7 linked regions of the Homo sapiens genome follow. Changing the gene in region 1 together with any one later gene gives a genetic interaction. Each region holds a gene or a part of one and is shown on either strand. Other genes may lie near its edges. The genes, in order: FBXW7, UBAC1, TOP2A, THOC2, RPS24, MYO9B and LSM2.

Region 1 (3,500 bases):
TTACAAAGTTCTTGTTGAACTGTAAACAGGTCACAGCACTCTGATGCTTGTTGGGACCTAGACAAAAACCAAAAGAATTTAATTACTGGTTAGAAATAATGGCTATGAGTTAGTTACATTATAATTTGTAGACTTCTACTTTAGAACATACAATAAATGCAACATTTGAAATGATACATATTTAGAAACCCATGTCCTCAGTATTTTAGGATCAGCATGGATGTAAGAAAATCTGGTAGTGATTTGTAACTGAAACATTAACTTTCAAGAGGTCTGTCTTCCAAGAAGCTTGGTTAGCTACCAGACAAACATCTTATTTTCTGGCTGTGTGAACGACAGCATTCCTTGGTGAGGATGTAGATAGTGCAACTTCATACCTTCTGCTGATGGACAAATGAGCACTAAGAGATCTATTACCCCACCACCATGAACCACTCAAAGCTGAACAGTCACTATTCCAAAACTCTGAGGAGAGACAAAACCAATGAGTAAAAAGCTGCAATGTTGCCTATCAGATGGCCCCACTGAAAAAAACACTTTCTAAGGGCTATAACAAATAGAAAAAGTTAATCATGAGGCACTGCTGTACCTCATCTAATATTAGTGATTTTCACTTGTTTCTTTCTCTACTTTAGTAGGCACTATTATTCCTCTCCATTCCAGTTAAGCACGTGACTAAGTGGAGGCCAAATAAATTTTCTATCAAGGATGCTGTTGTTTTTTTCAATAAGGTAGCCCTTTAAAATTGGACTACAAATTCAAAATGCAATGGTCAATCAAAAAATATAATGAGTACGTTGCTTCTATGATATAGCCAAGATCTTTCTTCTCACTGTTCTTAAAGGTTAAGTAGAGTCAATTGAACATGCAGGAAGTGATTAAACAATTTTATATTACATATTAAAAACACAGTTTAAAACATTTCCTCAAGAGTAGACTAGTTCTGTAAGTCAGGGTGAAAATATTCATAAACTTTTCTGAAGTAACCATTCTGTATGAGGTTGACTCTTTTTGTGATGCTAAGGCTCCATATTTCTCTTGAATAATGATCTCATTTTTAATGAACAAAACGAAAGGTGAGTAAGACTTACCTTGCAATGTTTGTAAACACTGTCCTGTTTTGATATCCCAGATTTTAACTGTAGAATCTGCATTCCCAGAGACAAGAATATTGTCTTTGAGTTCCATTCCACTTGTTAACGACTGGTGCCCTGTTAACGTGTGAATGCAATTCCCTGTCTCCACATCCCAAACACGGATTGATGTATCAAGAGATCCACTCACCACATGGATACCATCAAACTACAAAAGACACAGTTTATTAGAATAGAAGTATGGATACTCTTCCTATCAATTACTGACCTTAATCCTAGTAGGAAAGGGGGAAGAGGATGGGAAACAGGTAATGCCAGGAACAAAATGAGGTACTAAGATAAAGTGGCAATGAGGATAAAGTGCATGCCATCAAGCAACTCTACAATGTATGTTCTCACACACTTCTATCAGAAAGGCTCATCTTTATGCCAAGCAGCTTCAAACTAGATGCAGAAACAACTTAAAATGAAAACAAAGCACCTAAAATGAACAATATGTTAATTTTCAAATCATCTGGCCCCACCTAGCTATATATCATGGATGACTGAGAGAATTGCTATGAGTTTTACTTCCCACTAGGAAGCTGAGACTAATGACATAGCTTATGATAAACGGAATGCTTATCAGCACCTAAGGCATGAAAAGGGCTAGAGATAACTTTCGTGATGTTCAAAAGTAAGTTCCATTAAAAACTGTGTGTAAAATAAAATTTCATTTATAAGAACCTAATGCTAATTAGGAAATGTGCCAAAAGATAATTGTATCTGGAATCAGAAGAGGTGGCATTTTGAAATCAAAAGCAAACTACATACTACCTCTTCTCCAGCTTCCCAGCTACACCAAAAGTCAATAACAGTCTATCATTTCTAAACAATAATGTGGCTACCTCTTTTCTCAATCAAACAGTTTATTTAAATTAGAATATTATATTCATTAAGCTTCTGAACATATCAGAAACAGGTGCAGCCAATTCCCCTTCCTCCAAATTCATCACCTTTTCTAATTTAGCAAACATTTTTATCATATTGTCAATATTTCATGACATGGACAATATCCCTTTGACAAAGAAACAAATATCCTAAGAACAGAATTGACAGTACTAAGATTATGTACTAATTTGCTGAACATTAATGGGTAATAACTGGTAAATAAACTATATAAGCTATAGGAAATATTTTTACATTAAAAATGTTGCCTTTCTGGAAATAAAACAAGATTCATATTCTAAACTTCCTATTCATCTAGTTAATGATCTCAAAATATGGCAATGTTTTCAAGGATATGGGCTTGAAATATAAACCAAAAAAAAGAAATCGGTTTAGTCAACTTTACTTCTTTATGACTACAAATCAGTGGGCCTGGGACAGTAGAGTGCTTTATGCAGAAAGGATCTATTTCCACTTTGAATGGGGATGGAATCACAATTACATGGTCCATCAACTTTCAGCTATCAAAGCAAAGGGGCAGCTTTTGGCCATATTAATCTTCTGCAAAGGAGTTTCTTAAAATCCAGGTTACTCTCCTATGAGACTATTTAACCATTAATTAACATAGCAAAACTTAGAGCCCCAAAGTGTCAGGTTGCAAAACAAATATTTGTATTTAGAGGAGAAATAGATCACAGAAAATTGAAAGCATTTAAATAATTTTGAAATTTACACTTTCTTCATGCCAATTTTAACGTATATAAAAACAGCAGAATAATCTGATTAATCTTTTTTGGACTGTACTGGATCAGCAATTTGACAGTGATTATCTGAGTAAAACAACCTTATGATTCATCAGGAGAGCATTTAAGGGAGAGATAAGAGATCTTACCTGTAATGAATAGACTCTATTAGTATGCCCCTGCAACGTGTGTAGACAGGTTTCAGTCTCTGGATCCCACACCTTTACCATAAAATCATATGCTCCACTAACAACCCTCCTGCCATCATATTGAACACAGCGGACTGCTGCAACATGACCCATCAAAACATGTAAACACTGGCCTGTCTCAATATCCCAAACCCTAAGAGTGGCATCTCGAGAACCGCTAACAACTCTGCAGAGGGAGAAACAGAAAAACAAAACAAAACAAAAAAACCCACGTTTAGAATTTTTAATAATATGAGAAAACATGGTAGATTTAGTCAAGGTTTTTTAGCTTTTTTTTTTTTTTTTTTACACAGCAACAACCATTTTCAAAAGAAATCCTATGTAAAACCTTGGTATATAAACATAATAAGGGAATGGGAAGTTGGGAAGCCTAGAATGCTGCATGCTTGGTTCCCTGACCTGGGGACCTTAGGTTCAGCACCTTAAGGTTCTGTGGGACTGAGTTTGAAAACCACTGTACTGTATTTTTTAAAAAGCAGCAGAAGCTGCCTCTAAATATATACAATAAGATTTTGATTTTAGAAATA
Region 2 (3,500 bases), on another chromosome or scaffold:
AGGACTCTGGGGGCTTCAAGAGAGTGGGATCTGACCTTTCAGGGATTAGGAGAGGCCCTTGAAATTTTGATGAAGCCTTCATCTTACTTATTTATATTTTTTCAAAATGGACCCCTTTAAACATTGTGGTATAAATCTCCAGAGTAGAGGATGTATTATCTTGTTACATGAATTGTGTCCAGAAAATGTATGTCCTTCCCCAAAAACGAATTAGCATATGTTCAGTTGTAGCTTAAGTTTTGTTCAATATTAAAAGTTAAAAAATTAGTTTTAGGATTTTTTTTTTTTTTTTTTGAGATGGAGTCTCGCTCTGTCGCCCAGGCTGCAGTGCAGTGGCGCGATCTTGGCTCACTGCAAGCTCCGCCTTCCAGGTTCATGCCATTCTCCTGCCTCAGCCTCCCGAGTAGCTGGGACTACAGGCGCCTGCCACCACGCCCAGCTAATTTTTTTGTATTTTTAGTAGAGACGGGGTTTCACCGTGTTAGCCAAGATGGTCTTGATCTCCTGACCTGGTGATCCGCCTGCCTCGGCCTCCCAAAGTGCTGGGATTACAGGTGTGAGCCACCGCGCCCGGCCCTAGGATTTTTTTTTTTCTAAGATAAAATCTGAATAAAACCTTTTTTCACAGGTTACAATGGCATTTTTGTTTCCGTTGAGATTGCACTTACTGACGTGGCCTTTCCCTAATGCCACTTCTCTTTGGGTAACAAGGCCCTCTGGGGTAAACCTGCGGTGGCTGCCGAGACAGTCTTATCCACACAGTCATCGGGACAAACCTGAAAGGGTCTGAAGTTGGCCTGACTGCCTCGTGTCCACATAAGCGATGCGTTTCTACCTGTCACAACCTGTGGCTCCCTGAAGACAAGCCTGGGAGCTGCACTGCCCCCCGGCTCTGCTAACTACAGTCATCCCTGCACTTCCTCGGCTTTAGGATGCTGAAAACCAAGATCTGTTTTAGCAGAGCTGTGAGGAAAGAACGTGGACGGACAGCGTCCTCAGTGCTGTTGGGAGCACCCTCCGCTAGGGTGCGGGGAGCGGGCCCCTCTGCACGCAGGTCACTGGTTCCTCGGCCTCCTGCCGCCCCCAGCGAGCTAACGGCTGTGCTGTCCTCTAGGCCGTCATTTCCCTGATGGAGATGGGGTTCGACGAGAAAGAGGTGATAGATGCCCTCAGAGTGAACAACAACCAGCAGAATGCCGCGGTGAGTGTTGGGCTGTGGTGAGTGAGTGTGGGCTGTGGTGAGTGAGTGTGGGCTGTGGTAAGTGTGGGCTGTGGTGAGTGAGTGTGGGCTGTGGTGAGTGAGTGTGGGCTGTGGTGAGTGTGGGCTGTGGTGAGTGAGTGGGGGCTGTGATGAGTGAGTGTGGGCTGAGTGAGTGTGGGCTGTGGTGAGTGAGTGTGGGCTGTGAGTGTGGGCTGTGGTGAGTGAGTGTGTCAGGCTGGGCGAGTGCTGGGAGCCTCACTCGTGAGCGCCCCGGGCGTGGTGGAGGCCGTGTGTTTGCCTACTTTCACATGCAGCCGGCTATGTGGCTTTTAAAGTGAGACAATTGGATAGATGGCTCAAACAGTATAAAAATTTAAAAATACGGAATTCTAGGTTTTTAAAAGGGTGCCTTATATGTACATATTTTATGGATGGGTAATTTGTTCATTTTTTTTTTTTTTTAATTTTTTTGGAGTCAGGGTCTCACTCTGTCCCCCAGGCTGGAGTGCAGCGGTGTGATCACACTCACTGCAGCCTCGACCTCCTGGGCCCAAGCGATCCTCCTGCCTCAGCCTCCTGAGTAGCTGGGACCACAGGCATGCACCACTATGCCCGGCTAATTAGTTTTTTAGAGACAAGATCTCCCTTTGTTGCCCAGGCTGATCTTGAACTCCTGGCTTCAATCGATCCTCCTGCTTTGGCTTCCAAAGTGCTGGGATTACATGCATGAGCCACCACTCCCAGCCCATTTTTCTGATTAAACTGACTCAAGAATGATTCCCGTCCTGTGCCCGTGTGCCAGCTGGGCTGATGGAGCTGTGCCTGGGGAGGTCCCTGTGGTGGCCCACATCCCCCCCCCACCATCCCCCGTGCCAGTGGAGTTCGTGGCTCACACCTCCAAGACAGAGATGAGGAGCCTGTGTCCTCATGGCTCCAGCACTGCTGACTGCCCATAACAGGACCACAGGCAAGCTGGGCACTTGGTACATTTGTTAATCACCTTCCCAACACTCCTGGGTGGGCCACACTGGCCCAGGTAAGTGGGGAAGCGGCAGCAGTCAGTGATCCCTGCGACACCAGGGTCTGCAGAGAAAAGCGGACTAGCTCTTCCTTCTCTGGCCTGGTCTGACACGCACGGCAGTGAATCCAGACTGCGTTTGTCTTCACGGTAGAGTCCCTTCCAGGGAGATCAGCCCTGGGGGCTCAACAGGAACTCACAGAAAGGTGCAGGAGCTGTCATGCCTGCTGCTGGTGGCGTCTTGCGGAGGCACTGAAGGCGCTAACAGTGGTATTGGTGCTCTTGGCTTTGCAGTGCGAGTGGCTGCTGGGGGACCGGAAGCCCTCTCCGGAGGAGCTGGACAAGGGCATCGACCCCGACAGTCCTCTCTTTCAGGCCATCCTGGATAACCCGGTGGTGCAGCTGGGCCTGACCAACCCGAAAACATTGCTAGGTATGTGCGCCTTCTTTATGCTAAGTCTCGGGTCGGGGAGGCTGGCTGGTTCCCTTGCAGGACAAATAGGTGCTGCGGAGGCGATACGGAGGATCCAGCGCTGAGGATCGCCGTGCGCTGGCAGCACGTCCTGCCATGCAGGTTGGCATCCTGCGGGTGTAGTCCCGCTACGTCACTGTGGGGCCCGCAGGTCAGGTTCTGATCGTGGTGTGACTGTCTCCTGCGCGATGACCCTGACATAGGCCTCAGAAAACCAGTGCCAGTGGCTTTCCGAGGGCCAGCGGGGTGGAGACTGCGCCAGCAGCTTAGGAACTCACGGGAGGACAAGGTGTGGTTTGGGCTTTTGCTCTTACTACTCGTCAGGGTCTTCGATGGCAATGGTTTATTTTTATTGTGAGATACGTACATACAAAAGTGTATATGATGATGTAACTTTAAAGAAGAATAAAACTAATAGCCATGTATCTACTATTCAGCTTTGGGCCTGGGGTGCCCCTCCCCTATGCACCTCATCCCTCCCTCCGGTGTGGCCGTCGCCGTGGCCGCGGCTTACCTCTCTGCTTCCCGGTAGAGTTTTGCCGTATTTGTGTCTCCTTAAACAATCTCTCATTTGCTGCTGCCTTTGTGTAAGTAGAATCATGTTTTAAGCAGGCCTCTGTGACTGACTGCGTTCTTTGTGGGGGTTGTGGAGTATTTTCTTGATGGAAGGCACTGGGAACCCAGGGCTCGTTGGGTTGTCTACATGTGGTGCCACTCCTGATTTTTTTTTTTTTTTTTTTTTGAGACAGAGTCTCGCCTTGTCACCCAGGCTGGAGTGCAATGGCATGATCTCGGCCCACTGCAACCTC
Region 3 (3,500 bases), on another chromosome or scaffold:
TTATGATTGATATTGGTTTTCCTTTTTTTTTTTTTTTTTTTTGATGGAGTTTTGCTCTTATTGCCCAGTCTGGAGTGCAGTGGCATGATCTCGGCTCACCGCAACATCCACCTCCTGGGTTCAAGCAATTCTCCTGCCTCAGCCTCCAGAGTAGCTGGGATTACAGGCGCACACCACCACACCTGGCTAATTTTGTATTTTTTTTAGTAGAGATGGGGTTTCTGCATGTTGGTCAGGCTGGTCTCGAACTCCTGACCTCAAGTGATCTGCCTGCCTTAGCCTCCCAAAGTGCTGGGATTGCTGGGATTACAGGCGTGAGCCACTGCGCCCAGCCTGTTTTTATGTACTTTGTTGAGTGGGAACGAGATGTATAGATGATCCTCTTGAAAGGGGTATAATAGGCATGATGACTCACTCCTGTAATCCCAGCACTTTGGGAGGCCAAGGTGGGAGGATCAGTTGAGCCCAGGAGTAGTTTGAGACCAGCCTGGGCCATATAGTGAGACCCTCATCTCTACAAAAAATTTAAAAATTAGCCAGGTGTGGTGATGGACACCTGTAGTCCCAGCTATTCAGGAGGCTGAAGTGGGAGGATTGCTTGAGCCCAGGAGGTCAAGACTGCAGTAAGCTGTGATCCTGCCATTACACTGCAGCCTGGGTGACAGAGCGAGATGCTGTCTCAAAAAAGGAGTGGGAGTGGTGTATAATAATGTTTCCAGATTGTCCTTTTCTTTCCATTGGGCATAAATCATTTCCCTCTGTTTATCCTAACATTTTAAAATTTTGTATTTTTTCAACATTATCAGTGTCTATTCAGGTGTTGGAAAAGGTTTTTTTTTCCTCTTGACTCCTATTTCAGGAATGTCAGGAACTAAGCATGGTGGGAAATGTTCCTGCTGAATTTCAGAAGGTATATATGAAAAGTGCCAAAAAAATTGAGGGCTGGGTATGGTGGCTCACATCTATAACCCCAACACTTTGAGCAGTTCTCCTGCTTCAGCCTCCCAAGTAGCTGGAATCACAGGCATGCGCTACCATGCCTGGCTAATTTTTTTTATTTTTAGTAGAGACGGTTTCAACATGTTGGCCAGAACTCCTGGCCTCAAGTGATCTGCCCTCCTCAGCCTCCCAAAGTGCTGGGATTACAGGCACAGGCCACCGCGCCCAGCCTGAATATACATATTTTAGAAATAATAGTATTTAAATATTTTTAAATGTTAAGCATTCGTTTAATGTGTTGTAAAATACAATTTTCAATCTTTTTTTCTTAGGGAAAACAATTTAATTAGTATATGGAATAATGGAAAAGGTATTCCTGTTGTTGAACACAAAGTTGAAAAGATGTATGTCCCAGCTCTCATATTTGGACAGCTCCTAACTTCTAGTAACTATGATGATGATGAAAAGAAAGTGACAGGTAGAGTATTGAGGGGAAATAACATATTTGTTGCTAAAAATATATATATTTAAATGACTGTCTGTGGCATGAGGGTTAAAGATATGGAAATAAATCTCTATAATTGAATAGCTCTGCCAGTGATTAAGAAATAAAGCTGTCAATGAGATAGTAACAATAAAATAGTGTTTCATATTTATTTGCCCAGGTGGTCGAAATGGCTATGGAGCCAAATTGTGTAACATATTCAGTACCAAATTTACTGTGGAAACAGCCAGTAGAGAATACAAGAAAATGTTCAAACAGGCAAGTAAATAAGTGTCTTGTACCTTAATGATAAATGGTAGTAGTATAGCCATTTATAATGGCATTAATGATTGGTTTAATTTAACATAATTTATAAGCTATTGAAGTATGGAAAATTATAAGCATATATATTAGGTTATTAGGACTCATAAATTTATGTTATTTACTTCCAGTTTGTGAGATGACTTGAATTTTTCATGTTTCCTATTCTTTACTTCCATAGACATGGATGGATAATATGGGAAGAGCTGGTGAGATGGAACTCAAGCCCTTCAATGGAGAAGATTATACATGTATCACCTTTCAGCCTGATTTGTCTAAGTTTAAAATGCAAAGCCTGGACAAAGATATTGTTGCACTAATGGTCAGAAGAGCATATGATATTGCTGGATCCACCAAAGATGTCAAAGTCTTTCTTAATGGAAATAAACTGCCAGTGAGTATTTTCCTGGATGTTAAGGATAATAAGGGATTTTGTAATCATTGTCAAGTGCAAAATTGAATTTTTTCCCCTCCCATATGTTTTTGTTTGTTTGTTTGTTTGTTTGTTTGAGACAGAGTCTCACACTGTTGCCCGGGCTGGAGTGCAGTGGCACGATCTCGGCTCACCGCAACCTCCACCTCCCAGGTTCACGCAATTCTCCTGCCTCAGCCTCCCAAGTAGCTGGGATTACAGGTGCCTGCCACCACACCTGGCTAATTTTTTGTATTTTTAGTAGAGACAGGTTTCACTATGTTGGCCAGGCTGGTCTCGAACACCAGACCTCATGATCCACCCGTCTTGGCCTCCCAAAGTGCTGGGATTACAGGCATGAGCCACTGCACCTGGCCCAACCATATGTATTTTCTTACCACTTCTCACATATGTTCTTGAAAAGAGAATGGTATGCCACATTTTTTAATCAGCTCATTTTAAACTTACCGAAGGAATTTCTTTCTCAAAGAAACACCTAAAATAAATATTTCATGTCCTTTTTTTATTTTCCTTTTTCTTTCTTTTCTTGATAACCTCGCTGTGTCACCCAGGCTGGAGTACAGTGATGCAATCACGGCTCACTACAGCCTGGACCTCCCAGGCTCAAGCGATCATCCCACCTCAGCTTCTGGAGTAGCTGGAAATGCAGGCAGCACCACCATGCCCAGCTAATTTTTTTTTTTCTTTTTAATAGAGGTGGGGATCTCACTATGTTGCCCAGGGTGGTCTTGAACTCCTGGGCTCAAGTGATCCACCCACCTCGGCCTGTGTCCTTTAATGACCATTCCCTTATGCCTATCAGTGAACATCATTGCATTGGTTTTGGAAAGTCCTCATAGTCTATCATTGAACCTATTTTTTAATAACTTTCTTAATACTGTTACCTTTAATTCCTGTACAGGTAAAAGGATTTCGTAGTTATGTGGACATGTATTTGAAGGACAAGTTGGATGAAACTGGTAACTCCTTGAAAGTAATACATGAACAAGTAAACCACAGGTGGGAAGTGTGTTTAACTATGAGTGAAAAAGGCTTTCAGCAAATTAGCTTTGTCAACAGCATTGCTACATCCAAGGTAATTTTATTCTTAAATTATTAATCATGATTTATCTTTACATATATGTGTTCTTATTGTTTTTAATATATAAAGTGGACTTGAATATTGGGCTAGCTTAGTATAAAGGAGGTTAAATTAGTTTTTAATGTTTGATTATTATAATTTTGAGGATACTGAGTTTTACAGTTTGGTATTTTTCCTTATTAGGGTGGCAGACATGTTGATTATGTAGCTGATCAGATTGTGACTAAACTTGTTGATGTTGT
Region 4 (3,500 bases), on another chromosome or scaffold:
CCTGTAATCCCAGCTACTCAGGAGGCTGAGGCACAAGAATCGCTTGAACTCGGGAGGCAGAGGTTGCAGTGAGCCAAGATCACGCCACCACCGCACTCCAAACTAGGCGACAGAGCAAGACTCTGTCTCAAACAAACAAAAAAAAAGAAGTACTCCAAATGACCAATAACATATAAAAAGATGCTCATGGAAATATAAGCCACAGTAAAATTACATACATATTTACAAAAAATTTAAGTCTGACAATATCAAACATAGTGACAATGTGAAACAAGGTCAACTCATACACTGCTGGTGGGAGTGTACACTGAAATAGCCTGGCAATATCTAACAGAGCTAAAGTGTAACCTATAACCCAGAGATTCTACACCTAGTATATACTCCACAAAAACACATGCTTGTATACACCAAAACTGTTGTATAATAATGTTTCTATTGGCACTGTTAGTAATAGCCAAAAACTAGACGCAACAAAAATGTTTAACAAGACAGCATAAAAATAAACAAATACTGGTATACGATGGAGTATCTTGCAACTATGAAAATGAATGAACTAAAAAAAAAAGGAAAATCAATGAACTGCAAACATACAATATGGATGAATCTTAAAAGTCATAACTGTTGAACAAAAGCAGCCAGAAACAGTAGGATAAATATTCAATGATTTCATTTATATGAAGTTCAAGAAAAAAATTAAACATATTGGGTAATGACACTGCAAAGAAAATCAAGAAAGTTTCTTTGAGTTGAAGATGCAAGGTTAAAAAAAGAGAAAAATCAAGAGGAAAACCATAAATGTCAGGATAATGTTTACTACATGAGAGGTGGGAAAGGTTTGATCGGGAACAAACAGTATGTTGCCTTGACCTGGGTGTAAGTTACATGGGGGTGCATCTTACAGTGATTATTTTAAGCTCTATATTGAGGTTTCATGACTTCTCTGTATTTTCATTACATTTCACAATTTAGAAAAAAATTCTTCCATGTTGCACAAGGCTTTAAAGAGAGCCAATGAATTCATATAGAAGAGTTTCTTACTCTTTTATATCTAGTAATCCTTTTTCTAGTCAATGAAACAAATAATTTTAAGACTTACAGAACCTGCTTATATATCACATCTAAGGCTAAATAAGATGCCAGATTACAATCATCCACAGAGAGATTATCTACTTTGCAGATTATACATAACCTTGCAGCTCACCTCTGTGCCTTCTGATTATGTCAATACCCTATCATCAGGATGAGCAGGGTAAGGTTATTAAAAGTCAACAGAGTAAACTTTTGCTGGTCAACAATTCACTTCTAGGTTTCACAAATATGTTCAAAACCAAAAAATAAAAAGGCAATGGAAGCCGGGCACTGTAGCTCACACCTGTAGTCCCAGAACTCTGGGAGGCTAAGGTGGGTGGATCAGTTGAGGTCAAGAGTTTGAGACCAGCCTGGCCAACATGATGAAACCTCGTCTCCACTAAAAATACAAAAATTAGCTGGACGCAGTGGTGCGCACCTGTAATCCCAGCTACTCTACAGGCTGAGGCAGGAGAATCGCATGAACCCAGGAGGCAGAGGTTGCAGTGAGCCAAGACTGCATCACCGCACTCCAACCTGGGCAACAGAGCGAGACTCTGTCTCAGAAAAAATAAAAATAAAAAATAAGGGCAATGGAGAGCATCTACTAAATTAAATATTTAGTTTGAAAATGTCAGGCCAGGCATAGTAGCTCACGTCTGTAATCCCAGCACTTTGGGAGGCCAAGGTGGGTGAATCACTTGAGCTCAGGAGTTCGAGACCAGCCTGGTAATATCACCTGAGCTCAGGAGTTCAAGACCAGCCTCGTAACGTGGTGAAACCCTGTCTCTACCAAAAACACAAACAATTAGCAGAGCATGGTAGCACGCGCCTGTGGGCCCAGCTACTCAGGAGGCTGAGGTGGGAGGATCGCCAGAGCCCAGGAAGTTGAGACTGCAGTGAGCCAAGATCACACCAGTGAGCCATGATCGCACCACTGCACTCCAGCCTGCACTCCAGGGTGACAGAGCAAGATCCCATCTCAAAAACAAAAACAAAGAAAGAAAATGTCATTTAGCTATTAAACATTTCTCACTAAAAAAATTATTCTGAGAGTACCTTACAAATGGTAAGCTGGTTTAAGTTTGATCCCAAGTACTTTCAACTACTTCCCTGGAGAACTAGACAGGCCTTCTAATGGGTTGAGAAGAGAACAGTGGTTGGTTAAGAACACTGGTTAAAGTTGGATATGCTGGCTCATGCCTGTAATCCCAACACTTTGGGAGGCCGAAGTGGGAGGATCACTTGAGCACAGGAGTACAAGACCAGCCTAGCCAGCCTAGCCAACAAGTGAGACCCCATCTCTACAAAAAAAAAAAAAAAATAGAAAAAAAAAGTAGCCAAGTGTGGTGGCACATGCCTATAATCCCAGCTACTTGGGAGGTTGAGCTGGGAGGATCACTTGAGCCTGCAGGTCGAGGCTGCAGTGAGTGGTGATCGTAGTACCACTGCACTCCAGCCTGGGCAGCCTGGGGAACAGAGTGAGACCCTATCTCAAAAAAAAAAAAAAAAAAAAAACCACGATTAAGCTTCTAATTTCACAAAATACGTTAAACCTAACATAAGTTTATCTGGAATATAAAACAAAATCAATCTTCCTTCCACCAGGCAACACAGAAATAACATCTGCTTCAGACTAGCATCAGAAGATATAACCTAAAAATGCCATCTAGGTCTTTTGTGGAGAGGAGATATATAAGTATATCAAGGTTGCTTCAATATTTACTATGAAGTATTAAAACAATTCCCTCTTTGGGTTCTCATTTCCCTTATAGGGTCAATTCTCTTTAGAATATAATAGCAGGGGCCAGGCACCGTGGCTCACACCTATAATCCCAGCACTTTTAAGAGGCCGAGGAGGGCAGATTACTTGAGGTCAAGAGTTTGAGACTAGCCTAGCCAATATGGTGAAACCCCGTCTCTACTAAAACTACAAAAATTAGCCGGGCTTGGTGGCCAATGCCTGTAATCCCAGCTACTCAGGAAGCTGAGGCAGGAGAATCACCTGAACCCAGGAAGCGGAGGTTGTAGTGGGTCGAGATCGCACCACTGCACTCCAGCCTGGGCGACAGAGTGAGACTCTGTCTCAAAAAAAATAATAATAATAATAGCAGGAAGCACCATGTCTTTGAAAGAAGAATTTAACAGAATAAAGTAACTCATCTTTCCCTTTGTACTCGGGCTACTAAAATGCAATTTCAAATATTCCTTCATATAGAAAAAGAGAAAAAAGAAAAAGAGGAAAGGAAAAGGAAAGGATGAGAAAGAAAGAGAAATAAAATAATTGTTTAAAATTCCTCCTTATTCACTTGAGCCCAGGAGGTCAAGGCTGCAGTGAGCCAAGATCGTGCCACTGCACTCCAGCCTGGGCAACAGAGTGAGACCCTGTCTCAAAAAAAAAAAAAAAAAACTTCTCCTTATAACAATGCACT
Region 5 (2,167 bases), on another chromosome or scaffold:
CAGCCACTTCGGAGGTGCCTTGTTTTGGTAGTGCAAAAGAAGAAAAAATAGTGATCTGTGAGCTCAAGTCTGGACAAGAACAGCCAGTCTCCCAAACTCCCTGTTGAGAGAATGTTGAGTGGACCATTTGTTTCCTGTGAGGCTATTCCATACCTAAAATCCCTTGATGATCCTTTCTGTTCCAGCAAAAACATGCATTAAATGTACTTGAAAAGTTTTGGTTTAGAAAGCTGTGTTTCTTAAGCTCAGACTGGGTCAGTTTCCCTACCAGAGTGGTGGGTAATGATTTTAATGTTTACAAGTCACCTGGATGTACTCTTTTCTCATTCAGCATGGCCTGTATGAGAAGAAAAAGACCTCAAGAAAGCAACGAAAGGAACGCAAGAACAGAATGAAGAAAGTCAGGGGGACTGCAAAGGCCAATGTTGGTGCTGGCAAAAAGGTATAGTTCATTAAGGAAAATATAGAAACGTCATTAATTGTAGGTCTTTAGTTTCTAGGAAAGAAGGGATCTTATTAATTTTTAAAATAACTTTTCTTAATGTTTCTTCTTTTCCCTCTTCTTCTGGATTACAGAAGGTAACATGTTTTAAGAAACTATGTAGCATAGTGTCTTAACACCTCAGTAAAGTAGCTTGGCCCACCCCTTGTCAGCTCACAGCACAATCTGGAGGCCACATTGGTTCATTGATCCCAGCTGGTGGGCACCTTTCAAGCCTATCACAAGAAGTTTTAATTTTACTAATTGGCATAGAACCTTCAATGCAGAGCGGATCCCATTCCCTGTGATTTTACTTATTAATATGGACACTGGTTTAAGAAGCAGTTGGATCAATGTGGCCCGTGTTTTCCTGGCACACTGGAAAGGCAACTGAGATCTCAGGATTGCTTTCCTCTCCAGTTGGCCAAGACAAGTGATTTTAGCGATAAGCAGCTTTTTACCAGCTTTGCTAGCTGTAAATAGTTGGACATTGTAAATCATTGAATAGAATTAAGGTGTTGGGTTGTTAAATTAACAAATAATCAAGTGTTCTGTGAACTTTTTTTTTTTTTTTTTTTTTTTGCTTTTCCTCTCTACTTTCTTGGATTTCTTGTTCATCAGAAATGAAGTGTCTAGCAGGTACTGAGATTGTAAGCACGGTGTGGGGATGCATCACCTTCACTGAGTTTGCTTTGATGATGCTTTGCATGTTGGCCTTTGGACGACAGTTTTATAGTATGGTCGATTATAATGCCAGTGCTATTTAGGCTGGTGCAAAAGTAATTGCAGTGGCAAAAACCACAATTACTTTTGCACCAACCTAATATGTTTTAAGATAGTATATTATGAGCAAAGGAGAAAACGTTTAAAATCATGTTTATTTTGTAAACTCCAAAATGCATGTTACATGTGAAGTGACTCACTGGAGGAAGGTGAGTACTTTACCAAGTAGGCACTTGGGAAATGCTGTGTCCACATACTTAGGAAATGGCTTCAGTTAACACTGGGCTTGGGAAGGGCTCTCTTATCCAAGGAGCAGTCTTCTCTGGAGCCATGAAACCAGCCTGGCAGCACTGGTAATAAACTAGTCTGTGAAATCTGGCAAAGCCTCTGTCCTGTTTGGATATACGCAAAACTGCCTTTTACCATTTCCATTGCTTTTTATTACTTAATCTCCCAACTTTGTGCCTGGTGTCTTTTTTTTTTTTTTTAAAATAGAAAATTTTTGAGGTAATTATGTATTCATATAAAAGTCTTTGGTGGATATGCTTTTTCCCACAAGCACTTGGTTAGAATGGCCCATTACCTCATTTGTTTATTTTTTGAGACAGGGTCTCTTGTCACCCAGGCTGGAGTACAGTGGCATGATCATGGGTTACTGTACCTCCCGGGCTTGGGTGATTCTCCCACCTCAGCCTCCCTTGTAGCTGCGACTACAGGCATGTGCCACCGTGCCCTGCCAATTTTTTGTAGAGACAGGATTTAGCCGTGTTGCTCAGGCTGCTCTTGAACTCCCGGACTTGAGCAGTCTGCTTGTCTAAGCCTTCCAAAGTGCTGGGATTACAGGTGTGAGCCACTGTGCCCAGCCTGTTACCTCATTTAAAACAAATTTTGCACATCTGAACAGCCTAAAATTGTAATGTGATAAGTGGGGTAGGAGTGGGGTGGGCGTAGTGGGATTTTGAA
Region 6 (3,500 bases), on another chromosome or scaffold:
AAGAAGCCTCAAACTCCTTTGGGGTCCACTGTGGGCTTTCCCTTGGGTCTTTTTCTAGGAGGCTTTTTGTTTTGCTTTTATTTTATTTTATTTTATTTTATTTTTGAGACAGAGTCTCGCTCTGTTGTCCAGGCTGGAATGCAGTGGCACGATCTTGGCTTGCTGCGACCTCTGCCTCCCGGGTTCAAGTGATTCTTGTGTCTCAGCCTCCCTAGTAACTGAGATTATAGACATGCACCACCAAGCCCGGCAAATTTTTGTATTTTTCGTAAGATGGGGTTTTGCCATGTTGGCTAGGCTGGTCTCCAACTCCTGGCCTCATGTGATCTGCCTGCCTTGGCCTCCCAAAGTGCTGGCCTTACAGGTGTGAGCCACTATGCCCAGCCTGTTTTGCTTTTAGAGACAGTGTCTGGCTCTGTCACTTAGGCTGGAGTGCAGTGGTGTGATCATAGCTCACTGCAGCCTCGACATCCCAGGCCCAGGTGATCCTCCCACCTCAGCTTCCTGAATAGCTGGGACTACAGGTGTGTACCACCACACCTGGCTAAGTCTTTAATTTTGTGTAGAGATGGCATCTTGCTATATTGGCCAGGCTGGTCTTGAACTCCTGTGCTCAAGCGATCTTCCCATCTAGGCCTCCCAAAGTGTTGGGATTACAGGCATGAGCCATTGCACCTGGCCTAGGAGGCTTTTGCATGTGTGGGTAGGGCCTGCTCCGGGAGCTGGGACCTGACTTGTGGCAGAGCTGGGTCTGTGTGGGCAGGGGAGAGGTGAACAGGGTGCCTAGGTCGGGGAGGGGCTGGGCTCGGAGCTGTGGGTGCTGGGACGGGAGCTGCTGATATCCTCCTGGGGGCTTCTCTGTGCCCGGTGGATGCCCCAGCTCCATGTGAGTGTTGGGCTGGTCCAGGCAGCCCCTCCAACCCTGAATCCAGGTGTTCCCTGACCGATCCAGGTACAGGGGAGTCCCTGGGCAGAGAATGGGTGCAGCCAATGGCAAAGCAGGGCTTTGTCCCTGAGTGCTGCCTGCCAGCCTTGGAGCACTTCTCTGCAGCCCATGAGTGCCTAGGCATCTGGTTTCCCACCAGCCTTTCCCTGTGTCCAGAATGACATCCCCTTAGTGCCACAGGCCAGATGGTATATCACGGGCAGCAATTTGGTGAGTGACCTTTTTGGCTTCTGGAATATTCCGAGGAGCGTGGCCCGGCTCTGCTCACCTCTTGCGCTGCAGGTGCCCCCGACACAGGCTCTGCAGGCGGATGATGCTCTGTTTCTGGTGCCGGTAGAGCTTCCGCTGCCAGTAGCCCCTCCATGAGGCCTGGAGGTACACGGCAGCCTGCGTCCTCTCCAGCGCCCTCCGGACCCGGTAGGACCGCCAGCAGGCCTGGATGGTGACGGCGGCCCGCTTCATCTGCAGGAAGTGCCGACGCTCCAGCACCATCCGGAACCAGCTCTGCAGCAGCAGGATTTTCCGCACCACCTCCCGGTGCAGCGTCTCCTGCAGGGCTTGCCGCTCCGTCTCCTTCAGGAAGACCTGGTGGGCACGGGGTCAGGTGGGGTCAGCTGCACTGCCCCTGACACCATCTCTGTGCCTGGGAGGTCTGCATAGCCCACTCCAGAGTGAGACCTAGGCTGGTGTGCTGACCAACCAGGGCTTTATTTATTTATTTATTTATTATTTTTTTGAGATGGAGTCTCACTCTGTCGCCCAGGCTGGAGTGCAGTGGCATGATCTCGGCTCACTGCAACCTCCGCCTACTGGGTTGAAGTGATTCTCCTGCCTCAGCCTCCCGAGTAGCTGGGACTACAGGTGCCCATCACCAGGCCTGGCTAATTTTTGTATTTTTAGTACAGACAGGGTTTCACCATGTTGGCCAGGCTGGTCTCGAACTCCCAACCTCAAGTGATCTGCCCGCCTTGGCCTCCCAAAAATGCTGGGATTACAGGCATGAGCCACTGCACCTGGCTGTGGCCCCCCCTTTTTTTTTTTTTTTTTGAGATGGAGTCTCACCAGGCTGGAGTGCAGTGGCCCGATCTCAGCTCACTGCAACCTCCGCCTCCCGGTTTCAAGCGATTCTTCTGCCTAAGCCTCCCGAGTAGCTGGGACTACAGGTGTGTGCCTGTAATAAAACCCTGTCTCTACTAAAAATACAAAAATTAGTCAGGTGTGGTGGCGGGCACCTGTAATCCCAGCTGCTTGGAGGCTGAGGCAGGAGAACCAGTTGAACCTGGGAGACGGAGGTTGCAGTGAGCTGAGATCACACCACCTGTCTGGGCAACAGAGCAAGACTCTGTCTCAAAAATAAAAACAAAAAAGAAAAAAGAAATGAGATCTCGCTCGGTCACCCAGGCTGAAGTGCAGTGGTGCAATCAGGGCTCACTGCAGTCTCAAACTCCTGCCTCAGCCTGCCAAGCAGTTGAGACCACAGGTGCATGCCACCACGCTTGGCTAATTTTTAAATATTGTATAGAGATGGGGTCTCGCTATGTTTCCCAGGCTGGTCTCAAACTCCTGGGCTCAAGGGATCCTCCCACCTCAGCCTTTCAAGTAGCTGGGACTCTGCGTGCATGCCACCTCGCTTGGCTGGAAGGGAATTTTTTACACCAGGTGAGGCCTTCAGGGGGACTGACCTTGGCGCTTGTTAAACAAGGGTGGCTGAGTAATGCTCCCATAGCAAGAGGCAAACACATGCCCAGAGATGGGAGACAGTCTCTGAAAGGGAGGACAAGTGCAGGCCACCTCCTGCCTCATACCGTAAAGGGGACTGACCATCTCCTAAATCCTGCCAGTTAGCACGATCGTCCCTTTCCTACCTGTGAGGCAGCAATAAACAGGTGACGCGGAGGGAGTCGCTGAGCCCTGCTGAAGAACAGCAGGTGGGGCTCAGCCAGGGCGGCCCCTATCCCTTAGGTGCAGTGCTCTGCTGGGTCCCGAGAAATGCATTTCCTAGACAGAGCCCTGTATGTTTCAGAGAGTGGCCCTGGGGGCCTGGGGAGACACGGTGTGCGGTGGAAGGCAGGGTGTGGGTTTGTAGTGCCCCGAGGGGCAGGAGCGCTGACCTTGGTCTTCCCGATCTGGTAGTTCCTCTTGTCTATCTTCATTTTCTCCAGGAGGGTGGAGATGACCTCCCTGCAGGGCTGGGCATCCTTGGGCAGGAGCACCTGGAACTGCTCGGTGAAATCCTAGGTTATTTGGGTGGAGAAAGGAAAATCTAGGTGAGTGTTCTGGCCAGCGATGAGGAGACAGAGATCTGGTGACCCTGGTTAAGGTGAAGCTGGGTTTGACAGGAATGGTAATGACAAATCTAAAATTTCAGGCTTTCAGAAATAGTCTGGGCCGGGTGTGGTGGCTCACACCTGTACTCCCAGCACTTTGGGAGGCCGAGGTGTGTGGATCACCTGAGGTCAGGAGTTCGAGACCAGCTTGGCCAACATGGTGAAACCCCATCTCTACTTAGCCGGGCATGGTGGCAGACACCTGTAGTCCCAGCTACTTGGGAGGC
Region 7 (3,500 bases), on another chromosome or scaffold:
TTTGCTGAATGAGTGAATGAAGTTTAGTAATTCCCAGTCACAACTTTTCTCTAAAATATAAATTACATCACTTGTATTTATCTTCTATACATATTCAGAAAACATGAACTGATTTGGTTGGATTGGTGAAGTCTGGTAGCATGAAATGTATCTTATGACACTATCACATTAATGGAAGGACAGCAAGCACTCCAGTTGCAGGTATGGTATAAGCAAAAGGCCACAGGGAGAACATACAGGTAGGGACATGTTGGGGAAACATGGTGTAGAGCAACTGTATTATATGCTTTATACCAAGGAGAGTAGTGGGAAGCTGAGTTGGATTCTTGGCTGGGTTAACGCAGAGTAACAGGGGCTTGGATGAATTCGACATCCTTTTCCATGTCCCAGCCCCCTGCCCAACACATAGTAACAGAACCAAAACACAAATTTGCATCATAAATTTTATTCCCGATGCGGGACAGATTCCTTCCATCCCCAAATGAATCACATGCTGCCCTGGAAAGACCTAGGAAACTCTCCTACCATCTCCAGAGAAGTAGTGAGAAAGGCAGGTGCTGGGGACTGGGAAGGCTTTGAAGTTTCCCAGCCTACTTATCCTCCCCTTCTCAAGAGAGGATAGCTGTTCCCTATTACTCCTCTCATCCACTCATCCCTTAAAAAAAACCCACAAAACCATCATTAGTAAAAAAACAAAACCCCTTCAAGTATTGGGGGTTAGGGGTTCTGGGCTGGGACTTGGGGTTATGGGTCACCAATGAAAGAGGGAGGGGAAGAGGAGGAGGAGCCATCACTGTTTCTGCTGCAGGGCTTCCTTCCTTGCCGCATCCTGTAGCAACTGTGTGTCGACCTCATCTGCTGGCAGCTGCACGTATCGGACCACTGAGCCCCGAATGAAGCAGTTCTTCACTGATAACTAGACAAAGATGGACAAATATGAAAACACCCTTAAAAATGTCCTCTAACCACCCAGGGGCCTCCTGCTTTAGAGGTGTTTCCTCTTCTCCACAGACCCCAACTCACCATGTGAGGGTATTTCTCAGGGTCTGTGACACTGATGTCAGTTAGTTTGATGTTGAGATACTAGGAAAGGAAGATGAACACCATTATTATTATTATTTTTTTTTTTTTGAGACAAGAGTTTTGCTCTTGTTGCCCAGGCTGGAGTGCAATGGTGCCATCTCGGCTCACTGCAATCTCCGCCTCCTGGGTTCAAATGATTTTCCTGCCTCAGCCTCTCGACTAGCTGGGATTACAGGTGCCCACCACCACGCCCAGCTAATTTTTTGTATTTTTAGTAGAGACGGGGTTTCACCATGTTTGTCAGGCTTGTCTTGAACTCCTGACCTCAGGCCTCGGCCTCTCAAAGTGCTGGGATTACAGGCGTGAGCCACCGTGCCTGGCCGACGAACACCATTATTAACCCTAGAGACATGATGTAAGAACCCAACCCTTAAGTCTCCCCTCTCCTTCTCCAGGAACCAATTCTGGGGCCCGTGCTATATCTCACCTGATCCACAGAATGGAGGGTTCCACAGATGCTGTCAAGGGCAGAGGGAGAGAAGAATCAAATTAGTTTATAACAAAGTCAACATAGAGGTGACTTCAGAGCTGGGATGAGAACATGACTGGGAGAAGTCAAGGACTTGAGGATGTCAGAAAAGGTAGAACCAAAAGGGGGCATTCCTAAGCCCTGGAGTAGGAAAGACAACTAACAGAGTAGTTTATTTTCAACCCCACATCTCCTCTCCCTAAACCAATCCATTCTTTTTTTTTTTTTTTTTTTTTTTGAGATGGAGTCTCACTGTCAGCCAGGCTGAAGTGCAGTGGTGTGATCTTGGCTCACTGCAACCTCTGCCTCCCAGGTTCAAGCGATTCTCCTGCCTCAGTCTCCTGAGTAGCTAGGACTTCAGGCGCATGCCATCATGCCCGGCTAATTTTTTATTTTTAGTAGAGATGGGGTTTCACCATGTTGGCCAGGCTGTTCCTTAACTCCTGATCTCAGGCGATCTGCCCACTTCAGCTCCCCAAAGTGCTGGGATTACAGGTGTGAACCACTGTCCCCGGCCAAACCAACCTATTCTTAACAGCTACCATTAAACAACTGGTAAAGGCTAGACCTGTATTCTATATAGTATTTGTAATCTTTACAGCCATCTTTCAAAGTAGTTATTACCTTCCAGGGGCTCAGAGAGGTTGTTTTAAACTTTATGAGTTTAGAACAAATGGGAACTTCAGTCCAAGTCTGTGTGACTCCCAAAACCATCAGCTATTTTTTTTTTATTTTTGCGACAGGGTCTCACTCTATGGCCAAGGCTGGAGTGAAATGGCGTGATCATGGCTCACTGTGGCCACTTGAGTAGCTGTGATTACAGGCTTGAGCCACCATGCCCAGCTGATTTTTTTTTGAGATGGAGTCTCGCTCTGTCGGCCAGTCTGGAGTGCAGTGGCACAATCTCGGCTCACTGAAAGCTCCATCTCCCAGGTTCACGCCATTCTCCTGCCTCAGCCTCCCGAGTAGCTGGGACTACAGATGCCGGCCACCACTCCTGGCTAATTTTTTGTATTTTTAGTAGAGACGGGGTTTCACCGTGTTAGCCAGGATGGTCTCGATCTCCTGACCTCATGATCTGCCCACCTCAGCCTCCCAAAGTGCTGGGATTACAGGCATGAGCCACCATTCCCGACTTTTTTTTTTTTTTTTTGTAGAGAAAGGGTCTCACTGTGAATGTCACCCAGGCTAGCTATTTTCAAACATTTATTGCTTTGGAACCAGAGCCCATATGTGGATAAAGGTAGGTAGCATTACTCTTGATGATGCAGGCATGAGTGATGTCCTCTCCATTCCCCAATCCTCGAGCCCCTTGAAATGCTATTTGAGGAATGCTATCAAAACACCAGTGCTCTTTGAGAGAATGGTGCAAAAATTTAAAAAAACAGCCTTTGGCTGGGAATGGTTGTTCACGCCTATAATCCAAGCATTCTGGGAGGCTGAGGCAGGAGGATCGCCTGAAGCCAGCTGGAGAACAGCCCAGACAACATAGCAAGACCTCATCTCTATTTTAAAGTTATAAAATAAAATAACTGTGGCCGGGCACGGTGGCTCACGCCTATAATTCCAGCACTTAGGGAGGACGAGGCGGGCGAATCACGAGGTCAGGAGTTCGACACCAGCCTGGCCAACATCGTGAAACCCCATCTCTACTAAAAATACAAAAAATTAGCTGGGCATAGTGGCAGACGCCTGTAATCCCAGCTACTCGGGAGGCTGAAGCAGGAGAATCACTTGAACCCGGGAGGTGGAGGTTGTAGTGAGGCGAGATCGAGCCACTGCACTCCAGCCTGGGTGACAGAGTGAGACTCCATCTCAAGAAAAATAAATAAATAAAAATAATCGTAATAAATAGCAGTTTTAAAAACGTCCTTATCTTGCCAAAAATAAAGTTGGCAGTTCTCTGCCCCAATTTTTGTAAAATTCTGAAAGTCTTTAAAACCCAGCG

The links.
Region 2: changes in FBXW7 (region 1) and UBAC1 are lethal when combined (synthetic lethality), as found in Homo sapiens cells (one study listed by BioGRID).
Region 3: changes in FBXW7 (region 1) and TOP2A together harm fitness more than expected from each alone (negative genetic interaction), as found in Homo sapiens cells (one large-scale study listed by BioGRID).
Region 4: changes in FBXW7 (region 1) and THOC2 together harm fitness more than expected from each alone (negative genetic interaction), as found in Homo sapiens cells (one large-scale study listed by BioGRID).
Region 5: changes in FBXW7 (region 1) and RPS24 together harm fitness more than expected from each alone (negative genetic interaction), as found in Homo sapiens cells (one large-scale study listed by BioGRID).
Region 6: changes in FBXW7 (region 1) and MYO9B together harm fitness more than expected from each alone (negative genetic interaction), as found in Homo sapiens cells (one large-scale study listed by BioGRID).
Region 7: changes in FBXW7 (region 1) and LSM2 together harm fitness more than expected from each alone (negative genetic interaction), as found in Homo sapiens cells (one large-scale study listed by BioGRID).

Annotation. Positions count from the first base shown.
Region 1 is NC_000004.12:152,323,093-152,326,592, forward strand, and holds part of FBXW7 (F-box/WD repeat-containing protein 7), read right to left. Parts: intron 3,140-3,500; coding exon 2,914-3,139; intron 1,303-2,913; coding exon 1,092-1,302; intron 58-1,091; coding exon 1-57. UniProt on the Homo sapiens protein: Substrate recognition component of a SCF (SKP1-CUL1-F-box protein) E3 ubiquitin-protein ligase complex which mediates the ubiquitination and subsequent proteasomal degradation of target proteins.
Region 2 is NC_000009.12:135,937,374-135,940,873, reverse strand, and holds part of UBAC1 (ubiquitin-associated domain-containing protein 1), read left to right. Parts: intron 1-1,114; coding exon 1,115-1,201; intron 1,202-2,513; coding exon 2,514-2,652; intron 2,653-3,500.
Region 3 is NC_000017.11:40,411,397-40,414,896, reverse strand, and holds part of TOP2A (DNA topoisomerase 2-alpha), read left to right. Parts: intron 1-1,271; coding exon 1,272-1,417; intron 1,418-1,604; coding exon 1,605-1,702; intron 1,703-1,925; coding exon 1,926-2,138; intron 2,139-3,078; coding exon 3,079-3,252; intron 3,253-3,441; coding exon 3,442-3,500. UniProt on the Homo sapiens protein: Key decatenating enzyme that alters DNA topology by binding to two double-stranded DNA molecules, generating a double-stranded break in one of the strands, passing the intact strand through the broken strand, and religating the broken strand.
Region 4 is NC_000023.11:123,723,053-123,726,552, forward strand, and holds part of THOC2 (THO complex subunit 2), read right to left. Parts: intron 1-3,500. UniProt on the Homo sapiens protein: Component of the THO subcomplex of the TREX complex which is thought to couple mRNA transcription, processing and nuclear export, and which specifically associates with spliced mRNA and not with unspliced pre-mRNA.
Region 5 is NC_000010.11:78,036,863-78,039,029, forward strand, and holds part of RPS24 (small ribosomal subunit protein eS24), read left to right. Parts: intron 1-331; coding exon 332-442; intron 443-576; coding exon of another isoform or gene 577-579; intron 580-1,102; coding exon of another isoform or gene 1,103-1,108; exon of another isoform or gene 1,109-1,120; intron 1,121-2,167. UniProt on the Homo sapiens protein: Component of the small ribosomal subunit. The ribosome is a large ribonucleoprotein complex responsible for the synthesis of proteins in the cell. Required for processing of pre-rRNA and maturation of 40S ribosomal subunits.
Region 6 is NC_000019.10:17,190,777-17,194,276, reverse strand, and holds part of MYO9B (unconventional myosin-IXb), read right to left. Parts: intron 3,181-3,500; coding exon 3,058-3,180; intron 1,532-3,057; coding exon 1,215-1,531; intron 1-1,214. UniProt on the Homo sapiens protein: Myosins are actin-based motor molecules with ATPase activity. Unconventional myosins serve in intracellular movements. Binds actin with high affinity both in the absence and presence of ATP and its mechanochemical activity is inhibited by calcium ions.
Region 7 is NC_000006.12:31,796,967-31,800,466, forward strand, and holds the end of LSM2 (U6 snRNA-associated Sm-like protein LSm2), read right to left. Parts: intron 1,542-3,500; coding exon 1,511-1,541; intron 1,084-1,510; coding exon 1,024-1,083; intron 917-1,023; coding exon 791-916; 3' UTR 430-790; downstream 1-429. UniProt on the Homo sapiens protein: Plays a role in pre-mRNA splicing as component of the U4/U6-U5 tri-snRNP complex that is involved in spliceosome assembly, and as component of the precatalytic spliceosome (spliceosome B complex).